Linked DNA regions of Homo sapiens: region 1 is linked to region 2. Evidence: fine-mapped expression QTL. A gene starts in region 2. The other region holds a variant in brackets. All regions are shown on one strand. Distances are from middle to middle.

Region 1 (5,392 bases), 340 kb before region 2:
TAAGCCCAGAAATATTTTTAATACTAATGTAATAACAACAATTTACATGGTGCTTCTTGTGGATTAGCCGTGCTCTTCTAAGAACTACACGTTTTTAATGCTTATAACAACCCTATGAAAACAGATACTGTTATAATCATCTCCCTTATGTAAATGAGGCATCAGGAACTTAAAAAAGCTTGCCCAAGGTCGTAAGGGTAAGTGGCTGGTCTGCGATCTGAAAACAGCCAGTCTGCAGTCCACATCCGTGTTCTTGTCCACTACTTACTCCAGCCTTAAACTTTGAACTGAATAAGGATGGATTGGTTTTGTATCCTTGCTCATGAAATGGATATTCCTAGGAGCTCAACATTTGGAGAATTTCAAACCTGAACACTTTAGAACACATTATGTTTTCTTCAAAGAGTAAATCATACCTCACACTTCTCCAACATTTACACCAAAGGTGAATTTGCTCTTTATAGGATATAAGAGCTTCTTTCATCTTGTCCATATCTGAAGCACTTAAAGCAGAACTCTGGTATGAAGTTCATAGCCGGAACGAATCCAGATCTAAATTGAAAGGATTATACAAAGTCATCTTCCTTGTTTGTTTCACCCTTTGTTTTCCCCCCAGAGGAAGGAGAGAAGATTTTGAAATCCTTTATTGCAAAATGAGTTTGAAATAGATACAAATAATAAATATGATTGACAGCTATAGAGGAGAAGGAAAAAACTTGGCTCTTGTTTTAGAAAGATACTTGAAAGGAAAACATCTATGTTTATTGAGAAGTGAGAAGTACATGCAAATCTTTCAAACATAATATTTGAAAGTGAAAATCACGTCATAGGATTTAGAGATATTCCCAAAGTCAATATTTGGTTCTTAAGTTCCAGGTAGTGGAAAAGTCAGAATCAGTTAAGTACCCAGAGCACTTGCTCCCTTCCTTTCTCCATTTCTCTCTCTCTCTCTCTCTCTCTGTGTGTGTGTGTGTGTGTGTGTGTGTGTGTGTGTAATTTTATTTATTACTGGTGAAACTGGTACAGGCAACATGTTGGCTTTTTTGTCAATCAGTTTTTTTTTTTGAGAAATTTTGCTTTTGTGAAAAATCTGCCTTTTCAAAGTTTTCTTTCCTTCTATTATACTCCCCATATTTTTGGTGTATCTGAGATGCTAATGGCCTTTCATTTTCAAGTTTTTATTTCCCAGTTGGCAGTACCACTTTTACACTTTGAAGATGGAAACTTGGCAGGAAAATTGTATGTCAGGGTGTATTTCTGTGTGGGGTTGCAAGGGCAGGAAAGAAAAAAAACTCAAATAAGAGGTATTTTCATTGAGTATGATCTTAGCTGGTGGCATATATAATTACCCAGTTATTTCTCTCATGAAATGAATGTTTATATTTGTTGTCATGACCAGGATCAGCTACACAGTTTGTGGGGCCCAGTTCAAAATGAAAATGTGGGTGTATTACCAGATTTAGCAAAAAAAAAAAAAAAATAGAGATGCCCAGTTAAATTTGAATTTCAAATAAACAATAAATAATTTTGATTATGTCCAGAATATCCTGGGACAAATATGATTCAGTTTTCTATCACCATAAATTAGTTTAAATGACCATTGCTTAGATCTGTCTTCAATTTCAGTGAAAGCAAAGGTTAAAACTCATCTGAGTTGCAATAGAAGGTGTTGCCTAGAATCATTGATTTTTTCAATACCAACACCAGTATTTGGAATCATCCCTTTATTTGGTCCCCACTGAAGTTTTCCCACCGTAAGACAAGGTTCATAGTAAAACTAAGCCTGAAGGCCTGGGTGGGAGAAAATAATTTGCAGATTCCAAATTCAGTCTCAGTACAATTTTAGGAACGAATATATATGAAGACCAAAGATCTAGAAATTAATTCTCTTTAAACTACCTCTGTGCCAGTTTGCATACTGGAATGTCTTTGAGTATCCCTTGGGATGTGCATGCAGCAGTATGAGGGCCACTTAACTAGAATGGAAAAGGGGAAGATGAATAGAACCCAGCGCCTGCCGTCAGGGAGCATACCAGCTGGAGGGTGACAGCCTCAGGAAGACCTAATTGTAGAACACTTGAATGGTTTCCCTCTCCTCTTGGATCAAGTTCAAAATTCTTCATGATCTACCCCCATCTTTTTTTTTTTGAGGTGGAGTCTCGCTCTGTCACCCAGGCTGGAGTGCAGTGGCGCAATCTCGGCTCACTGCAAGCTCCGCCTCCAGGGTTCACGCCATTCTGCCTCAGCCTCCCAAGTAGCTGGGACTAAAGGCGCCCGCCACCACGCCCAGCTAATATTTTGCATTTTTAGTAGAGATGGGGTTTCACCGTGTTAGCCAGTATGTTCTCGATCTCCTGACCTTGTGATCCGCCCGCCTCAGACTCCCAAAGTGCTGGGATTACAGGCGTGAGCCACCGCGCCCGGCTGATCTACCCCCATCTTTCTCTCTGTTCTTACCTGGTGCTCCTCTTCTCCCTGTGTAACCTCTAAGCTCCAATCATACCAGCCTTTCTGTCCCTAGCACACCTAAGCTGCTCCTGCCTATGTGCTATTGGGTCAAGCTGTTTTGGTGGGCTAGAATGCGCTTTTCAGTTTCCCCCCTTGCACCCACACACCTTAGATTTCAGGTTTCCTTGGCACCGTAAGCTTGGAAAAATTTAGGTATCACTGTTGTAAGCTCTCATATGACCCTGTCCTCCTCCTTGTACAGTACTTATTACAAAAGTCACTAACGTTTGGTATTCATTACCTTAAACTCTGATTACTTTTGTGCTGTTCACTTTCTGAGGACAGGTACC[A/G]TCTCTGTCTTATCTAACCAGATATTCCCAGCAGAGAATGTAGCCTCTTCCATATTAAGGGTGAGTCATACATATATGTAGAATTGAATTAAAAATATACTCAACGTATTTGTTGAATTGAATTGATGTTAACATTTATGTGAAACATGACTTTGTGTCAGTCACTGGCGGGCATTTACTATATATTATCTCATTTAATTCACACAAAATCATTTGGGAATACATGCTTTTAGATAGGCAAACTTTATTATTGTTGTTATTCGTTTACTAGGAATTTTTAGGCAAAGCAAGTGCATAAACACCAGGTGAGTGGTCTTAAATGCCATGTTAAGGATTTGGAACTTTTTACTAAACACCAGTGATTCTCCATACTTTAGGAAATCAGAATCACCTGGAGGATTAAAAACAACAAAAAAGCAATGCCCGCATATAATTGGTTTAGGATTCAGCAAGTCATTTTATAAAACTTCCCCAAATAGACTTTTTTGTTGTTGTTCTTTGTTTTTTTATACTTTAAGTTCTGGGATTCATGTGCAGAACATGCAGGTTTGTTACATAGGTATCCCAAGTAGTTTTAATGCACAGCACTGATTGGGACACTAAAAAGTAGTGATGCTAGCCCAGCAGCATTAACACCACCTGTGAACTAGTAAGAAATGCAGATATCTGGGCCCCTTCCCAGTTTCACTTAATAAGAAAAGGGAGGGGGGAGTCCCCAGCAATCTGTATCTTAGCAAGCCTTTCAAATGAATCTCATGCCCTTTAAAGTTTGAGAACCTCTGTTATAAACAATTGGAAACTTAAAAAGCTTTGTACTTTTGTGTTTTACAAAAGAACTTTGGTAGATACGTGGGAGACTGAATAAATAAGGGACAAACCAGAGGGTAAGGCAACCTGTTAGAGCTGTTACCTTTAGAAGTATCATGTGGAGGTAAGAAGATGGCAATAAGAACTAGAGTGGTGGTTATAGGAAGGAAGGAAGGTGGTGGGATCAGGAGATGTTTCAAAAACAGAAATGGTGAAATATGGTGACTGATTGGCTTGAAGAGGTTGAGGGAGAGAGTGAGGTCAAAGAAAATATAATTTCTTTCTGAGTTAGTTAAGTGACATCATGAAACAAGGCAGAAATGTGTTTAGAAAGTGTAAGTTGGGGGAAACCATAAAAGTATTGAATATAAGGTGTCTTCAAGCATCTAGTAAGAGATGTTTTTGTCTCGTTGGAAATTTGGTTTCTGGAACTTTGGAAACAAATGGGGAGTAAGGAGTGGTGTTGGAAGTTCTCACCATTGTATTTAACTTTTTAAAAATCATTCATTCAAGTGGTTATATATGTACTAAATTATTTTTTTAACATGTTCGTTTTATTTCAAATTGAGCCAAAGATGTTGAACTTTACACAAACTATAATCTCTTACATTGGATCATTTATATGAAGTTATTTTTAATAATTATTAGAATTTATGGAATATGTTAGCAGAATTATGGTAAAGCAAAGTTTGCATTTTGTAAATTTACTGTTCCATTCTTGGGTCAAGTGTACAGTGAACACATTCATTTTCAGAGAAAGAACTGAGAGGACACAAGCAAGAATACATTTCACATTTCAGCTGTTAAAGGAGGCAATTTTGTGTCATGTAAGCTCACAGATCCTGGAGCCAGACTGAGCTCTGTCCACATGTAGAAGGTGTGACTTTGAACAGACGTTACTTAAACTCTGAGCGTCTTCATTTCCTAATATGCAAAATGGAGAAATTAGTATTATTCATCTCAGGCTTTTTGTAAGCATTGAATGAGTTAAAACCTGTAAAAGTACTTTGAATAGCGCCTAGAATTTAATTCGTAATCATTAGTGTAAGCTCTTATTAATATCAATTTTTTATTCTCTACTTAGTCTTATTTTCTAAATCGTTGCTATTAACAGTTTCTGAGTTTTTTAATGTGGTTTCTGTTAGTTTTATGAACTGCTGAACATCAAAGGGAATGATTATAAACTAGTGATTTCTAGGAATTAAATTTTGAACCATTCATGGAGAAAATGGAGAAAGGCATCACAAATGTAGTATAATTTCTAAATAAATAGCAACTAAAAATTACTTTCCAAGTTAGACACATGCCATTTTTTAGGTCAAAGTTGCGGGTCAGAAAGGTACTGGGCTCCAGATTCTTCACAGCTTGAAATCTTACTTCATTCATCATTCTGAGCATAGTCAGTAGCAAATCAATAATTTACTTGAAAAGAAACAAGTAACTTACTACTCTTTTGATATGTGGTATAGAGGTCAAGAATATATCTTAAAAACTCTATATCAAAAGTTATAAATAAGATAACTACCAAGCAAAGGCTGATTATAATTAATAATAATAATGATAAATCCCAGCAGATATATTTGACCCCTGTAATGAGAAGAAGGTAACACCTCTGGAAGCAGAAAAAAATCTTACTCTCCCATCTGAGATTTGTAAATTAAGGCTGTTCATTACTGCTGTTGAATTATAATGATCTGAATTTCACTTAAAATCTCTTAATTTAGAAATCATTATGCTGGTGGAAAGGCCAAGGAGAAATGCTTCATCCTTAGCATTTTATTTATCCT
Region 2 (5,392 bases):
ACTACCAAGGATGCTCTTACTGGTGATAATAGAAAATGATGTAAACATGTTGGAAAACAGTTTGGCAATTTCTTATAAAGTTAAACATCAATTTACCATATGGTCCAGCAATACCAATCTTAGATACTAACCCAAAAGAAAATATGTACACCTAAAAACCTGTAAGTGTATGTTTTTAGAAGTTTTATTCATATCAGCCAAAACCTGAAAACAAATGTTCATCAACTGGTGAATGGATAAACAAATTACAGTAGATCCACATACTGGAATACTATTAAGGATTGATAAGGAACAAACTATAAATAGACCTAACAATATGAATAAATCTCAAAATCATTATGCTAAGTGAAATAAGCCAGACACAAATGGCTATATATTTTATATTTCTGTTTATATGACATCTGGAAAAGCCAAAAGTATAGGAAGAGGAAATAATTTTAAAAAATTAAAAATTTTAAAAACAATGCCAACGCAATTGCACTGCATAAGAATGTTTTGGTCAAGGATGGACTGCCTATTGGTCCCGTAAGATGATAGCAGAGCATATATAGAACCTGATATAGGTCATTTGATATTAGCACTGCAGATCAAGTAGGAGAAATAAATGATACCCAATAATGTGCAGGGACATTTGGTTCTCTATATGAAGAAAAAAATATACACACACACACACACACATATCATCTAGGTTCATGTAGGTAGAGTCTGTATTCGTGCAATGCTGAAACTGCCTAACAAAGCATTTCTCAGAATTTATTCCATTGCTAAGTGACTCACGACTACAGCTGCAAATAGTTATGCAGTATTTTACTATGATAATCCTCACAGTACTTCATGAAGTAGGTATTAGTTTTATATCCATTTTACAGGTAGGAAAATGGAGGTTCAGAGATTGTCCAATTTACTCAAGGTAATAAAGTGAGTACATGCGCTGACACTTTTAACTTGGTGTCTCTTACTTCAAATTTCACGCTTTTCCCCCCTGCTATACCAGTAAGTCAATTACTTGTTATCCTTAGCTTTTATAATACTTGGTTCAGGCCTCTGTTACACAAATTATAAAGTGATTTTTGTAATCAATAATTTAGATTATAAATGAGGAATGGAAAGAGTTTATTAATTTTTTATGTTTACATTGTTTAACATAATGTTCAGAACACAGTGGACACTCAACTATTTGTGAATGAATAAAGAATTACCTGCATTTCCTGAAAGGAGAATTAAAAATTATAGCAAATATTCCAGAGGTAAATTATTTCACTTTTGAAAACATTACAGTTCACTTTCACATACATGGCACTATAAGTAAACTGTGTCTAAGAAGGTATAGACTTAAGCCTTAGTATCTATGTTTGGAAAAGGACATAATATCTATCCCTTTTTTGCAATTACGAGGATGATTAAAAGTCCTTTGTATATGGTAATGTATAATTATTATCATATCTAAGTATTATCATCCATATCAGGCTGTTTAAAGTAACATAAAACCCTTTCTTTTCCCAAAATCTTCACCTACATGAAAAAATATTTTAAAATCTCTTTCCTTTCATTAATGGTGTTAATGTTTTATAGCAATGTTTATAAAGCTTCAGTGCTAAGAAGAAAATAATCAGAAGACTCACGAATTGTATCCTTTTATAACGATATAACAGTCTAATGCAGTTCACAAACTGCTGGTTCTGGAGGTAGAGAGACAGATGACAAGGAGAAATAGAAAATGCGTAAGAAAGAAAACTCAGTTCACGAAAAGCATAGCCTTTGAAGTAGTTAAAAGTTTTACTGCTAATAATTGGTATTCATATACAAAAGTAACGTAAATGAAAGTTGTTTTTTTTTTTTCAAAGCCCATACATATGAGAAAATGGCTTGAAACTGTAATATTCGAGACAAATATAAATATCTTCTTATACTCTGATTGCTAAGTAAAGGTATCATTTACAAGGGGGATTAAGTGGTTTCTACTACATAAAGAAAGACTGTCCTGGGACTTCTTTGGATATGCTCATATTTTCAAGAATTTCTCTTAAAATCATTACTTAATGTACTTAAACATGTAGGAATAAGAAAAAATGAAAGTGATTGATTACAACTTGTAGTTTTGCAAGAGGAATGTCAGGGTCACATTTGGTTAAGCTTTATACACTTTGTCCCCTCCATAAAAGCAAATAAAATCAACTCATTGCTTAATTCCTTTAATAATTTTGTGTTCAATAAAGTAAGGCAGTTAGGTATTATGTCAAGATTAGGACTTAACTGTTTCACCAAGGGTTAAAAACAAAGCCACCAATTTAAGCCCCTAAAAGGTTATAATACCCGCTGGTTCCATCTTAAAATCTGCAATTTTCAATCAACATGTTAACTTGGATCGGAATTCTGACATTTGAATTATTCTATTTTAAGCTCCAAAAAATGGACACGCACAATTTTATGCAACGTCAAGGACCTGTAAATTTAAATACACTTCTCTGTAATCTGGTTCACTTCAGAGTACAAATTCATTGAACAAAAAAATGCCTTCATCGCCATATGCATTCACATGAAGCCACATGGGATAAATGCATTTCCACTTTAAAAAGTATCTACTTTGGTTCAGAAATGCCCATTTAAGAAAAACCTACACTGAGATAAAGTGGACATTTTTCTTTTAAAACTACGTGACAGGATTCCCTCTTGACCTCACGTTTCTCCCCGCCACGTATTTAAATTTGGGGCAAAATTTCTGATTAAATGACTGATCAAAGTAATGGGGAGAATTCTTCAACGCCGGCCAAAAGTGCTTAGTCTCAAACGCTGTGAGGGAGCATTTCCTAAGCTTTGGGCGACTCGTTAACGGAATCTTAAGGGCAAGGTCCAACCACACTCAGAATCAGCAGGAAAATGACCGTTTGGTAAAACTCAATTACACCCAGTAGGCACCTCCCCAGGCCCGAAACAGCACTCGCCCTTTCTGCTCAGCTAGCGCGGGACATCGCAACGCCCAAGGCCCTCCTATCTCAAAGGCGCTTGCGCAAAATCTCCCCACAGACTCAATTAAACCCTTCCTTAGGCCGGTCGAGGCGAATGGTTTTGAAATTACTGTCGGGTTACGCCTCACTTTAAAAAACAGTAGGTATGACACAGCACACCAGAACGACCACTCACCGAGGTGGTCCTAAATTCAAACGACAGATTTAAGCTTCCTCTCGTGATTTATCTCGCGCTGCCGGAAGCGGAACTACCCGGGTCCTTTAGAGGGCAGTCCTTTGGGGAACCTTGGAACCACGGTCAGAAAGGTTAGGACTGATCATTTGGCTCTTGCCGGAAATCGTTCCGCCCGGTGAGGTTTCGGCGTGAGACCCGAGGAGGGCGGGGAAGAGGCGTGACGGAGATTCCTGAGGTGTAGTAGCCTGAGGTTCCCTTATGTGGCCCTATAGCTGTTACTGAAGGAAGTAGCCTACGTCCACGCCTACAACTGAAGTCTCTTGACAAACACCTCACCCCTGCCTCCGGGATGAAAGGGGGTAACCTAGACCTGAATGGGCTTGACCATCTCACAACTGCTCGCGTGACGACCGCATTCGTGGCAGGTGAGGGCCCAAAACCGGAGGAGAACCGGAGATGCGGAACCTGATCATGCCAGGGTTGAGGCGGCTGCTGGGCTTCTGCTTTGTCTCCTGTGCTCTGCAGACCCTAAACACATGCTCCACCGAGGGGCTTGTGCTGGAGAGAATGACAGCCTGGGCGTGGAGTGACAGTACAGCTTTGAGGGTCCTTTCGCGCCTTGATTTCTCCTCCTGCTCCCCCATGGCTTCCCTTTTTCATTTCTTGGGTTCGAGACGCCAGAAATTGAAGATCAGCTAAAAGGGAACCGCTGAGCTTCTACCCCACGCTGTGCCTGGCTCCACTGAAGTGATTAGCCTCGAGTTATGGGACTGCTGTGGGTAGAGGTGGCTTTTTAAAAAATTTTCTGCCTTAGTCTTTATCCCTCTCTCTGTCAACCCCACACCCACTTTAAAATAACAAAAGCCTCATGTGTTGCAGCTTTTCATAGTAGGGACCGAGGCTGCAGGGCACTGCCGCACCTAGTCATTTGGAGGTCGTTGCAGCCTTCTGCGCCTTGAAGAAGAAGGGGCCAGGGTGATGATCCCTGGATCTCATTCACGAGGTTCTTGACCACTTCCTGGGAGATTGCGACTCTTGGTGTCCTTTGGCTAGTAGTTGTCTTGCTGGAAGGCTTAACTGTGGAAGTGGGAAGCATAGCTGACCTTAGCACGTAAAATCCTCGCTCTACACTGGGACAGGATTTTGTTTTGCTATTGAGAATTCTTAAATGAAATAGATAATTTTTTTGTCTCAGATAGATAAAATAATAACGATAGTTGCCATTAACTGAGTCTTATGTGTGCCGAGTGCTTTACATAGTTTGTCATTTATTCCTCTCAACAATTCCAGGAGGTATGTTAGATTATTATCACCATTTTACAGAGTTAGAAATGGAGGCTTTGAACAGTCAAGCAACTTGCTCTATTAAACATTTGTTATAAGTAAACGTTTGAATCTGTGTTAAAAACCAGATCTGTCTGCCTTCAAAATCTGTATTCTATTGTCCTGTCCTGTTCTTCCTCGATTTCAATTTCTTCACTAACATTTTCAGTGTCTGAAAGTATCCATTCATTTAAAAAATTTTGGTGTACCTACTTATATGTCTGACAAAAGTTAGACATGATCTCTGTCTTTATGGAGCATTGTGATGCAGAATTAAGTAGTGCAGAACCCAGAATACTGTACTTACTGCAGCACAGGTTTATTTAAAGCAAATGACTAAACTGATTTGCAGAAAATTTTAAAATCAAAGGTTGCTGTTTTAAATGTTAAATTCATATGACTTTCAGAGTAGTTGTTGTGAGGGTATTAAACTGAACAATTGGTAGAACATCTGTTGATTACCCAAATAAGTGCTATGAACCAAGTTAAGTAGTGGGAATATATAGATTAGGTCCTCATTCTTTAAAAGCTCCCATGCAACCACAATATAGACAATGTTATGGACTATTAATTTTCTCACGTGGAAAAGGAATTGTGGTTATGTAGGAAGGTGTTCTTATTTTTAGCAGATACATACTAACGTACTTAGAGTTGAAGTGTGTTGATATCTAGTACTTTCAAATGGTACAGCAAGTGTATGTGTGTGTATGTGTCTGTGTGTATAAATAGCAAATATGGCAAAATGTTGGCAATTGTGAGTATAATGGTGGGCATATAGATGATTAACAAACTGTTCTTTCAACTTTTCCGAATATTTGAAATTTTTCATAATAAAAAGTTGGGGAGGAAAAAACCCAACCCTGATGGAAACAGATAAGTGAAAAGATAGATCCAAAATGCTGCGGAACATAGAAGATGGGAGAGGGTT

The links.
Region 1: its variant is fine-mapped to the expression of GIN1 in whole blood (INTERVAL, PIP 0.92).

The regions. Positions count from the first base shown.
Region 1 is chr5:102,781,767-102,787,158 of GRCh38, forward strand. The region is part of intron 1 of PAM (peptidylglycine alpha-amidating monooxygenase); the gene reads left to right. Among named protein-coding and RNA genes, the nearest start is that of PAM, 29 kb to the left of the region's middle. The variant A/G (reference allele first, on the strand shown) is at 2,799.
Region 2 is chr5:103,116,923-103,122,314 of GRCh38, forward strand. GIN1 (gypsy retrotransposon integrase 1) reads right to left here and starts at 3,216. Exons shown (of 8, transcript NM_017676.2): 1 at 3,142-3,216. PPIP5K2 (diphosphoinositol pentakisphosphate kinase 2) reads left to right here and starts at 3,379. Exons shown (of 31, transcript NM_001276277.3): 1 at 3,379-3,566. RefSeq lists enhancers at 2,352-2,853, 2,854-3,354, 3,190-3,449, 3,480-3,669, 3,720-3,779.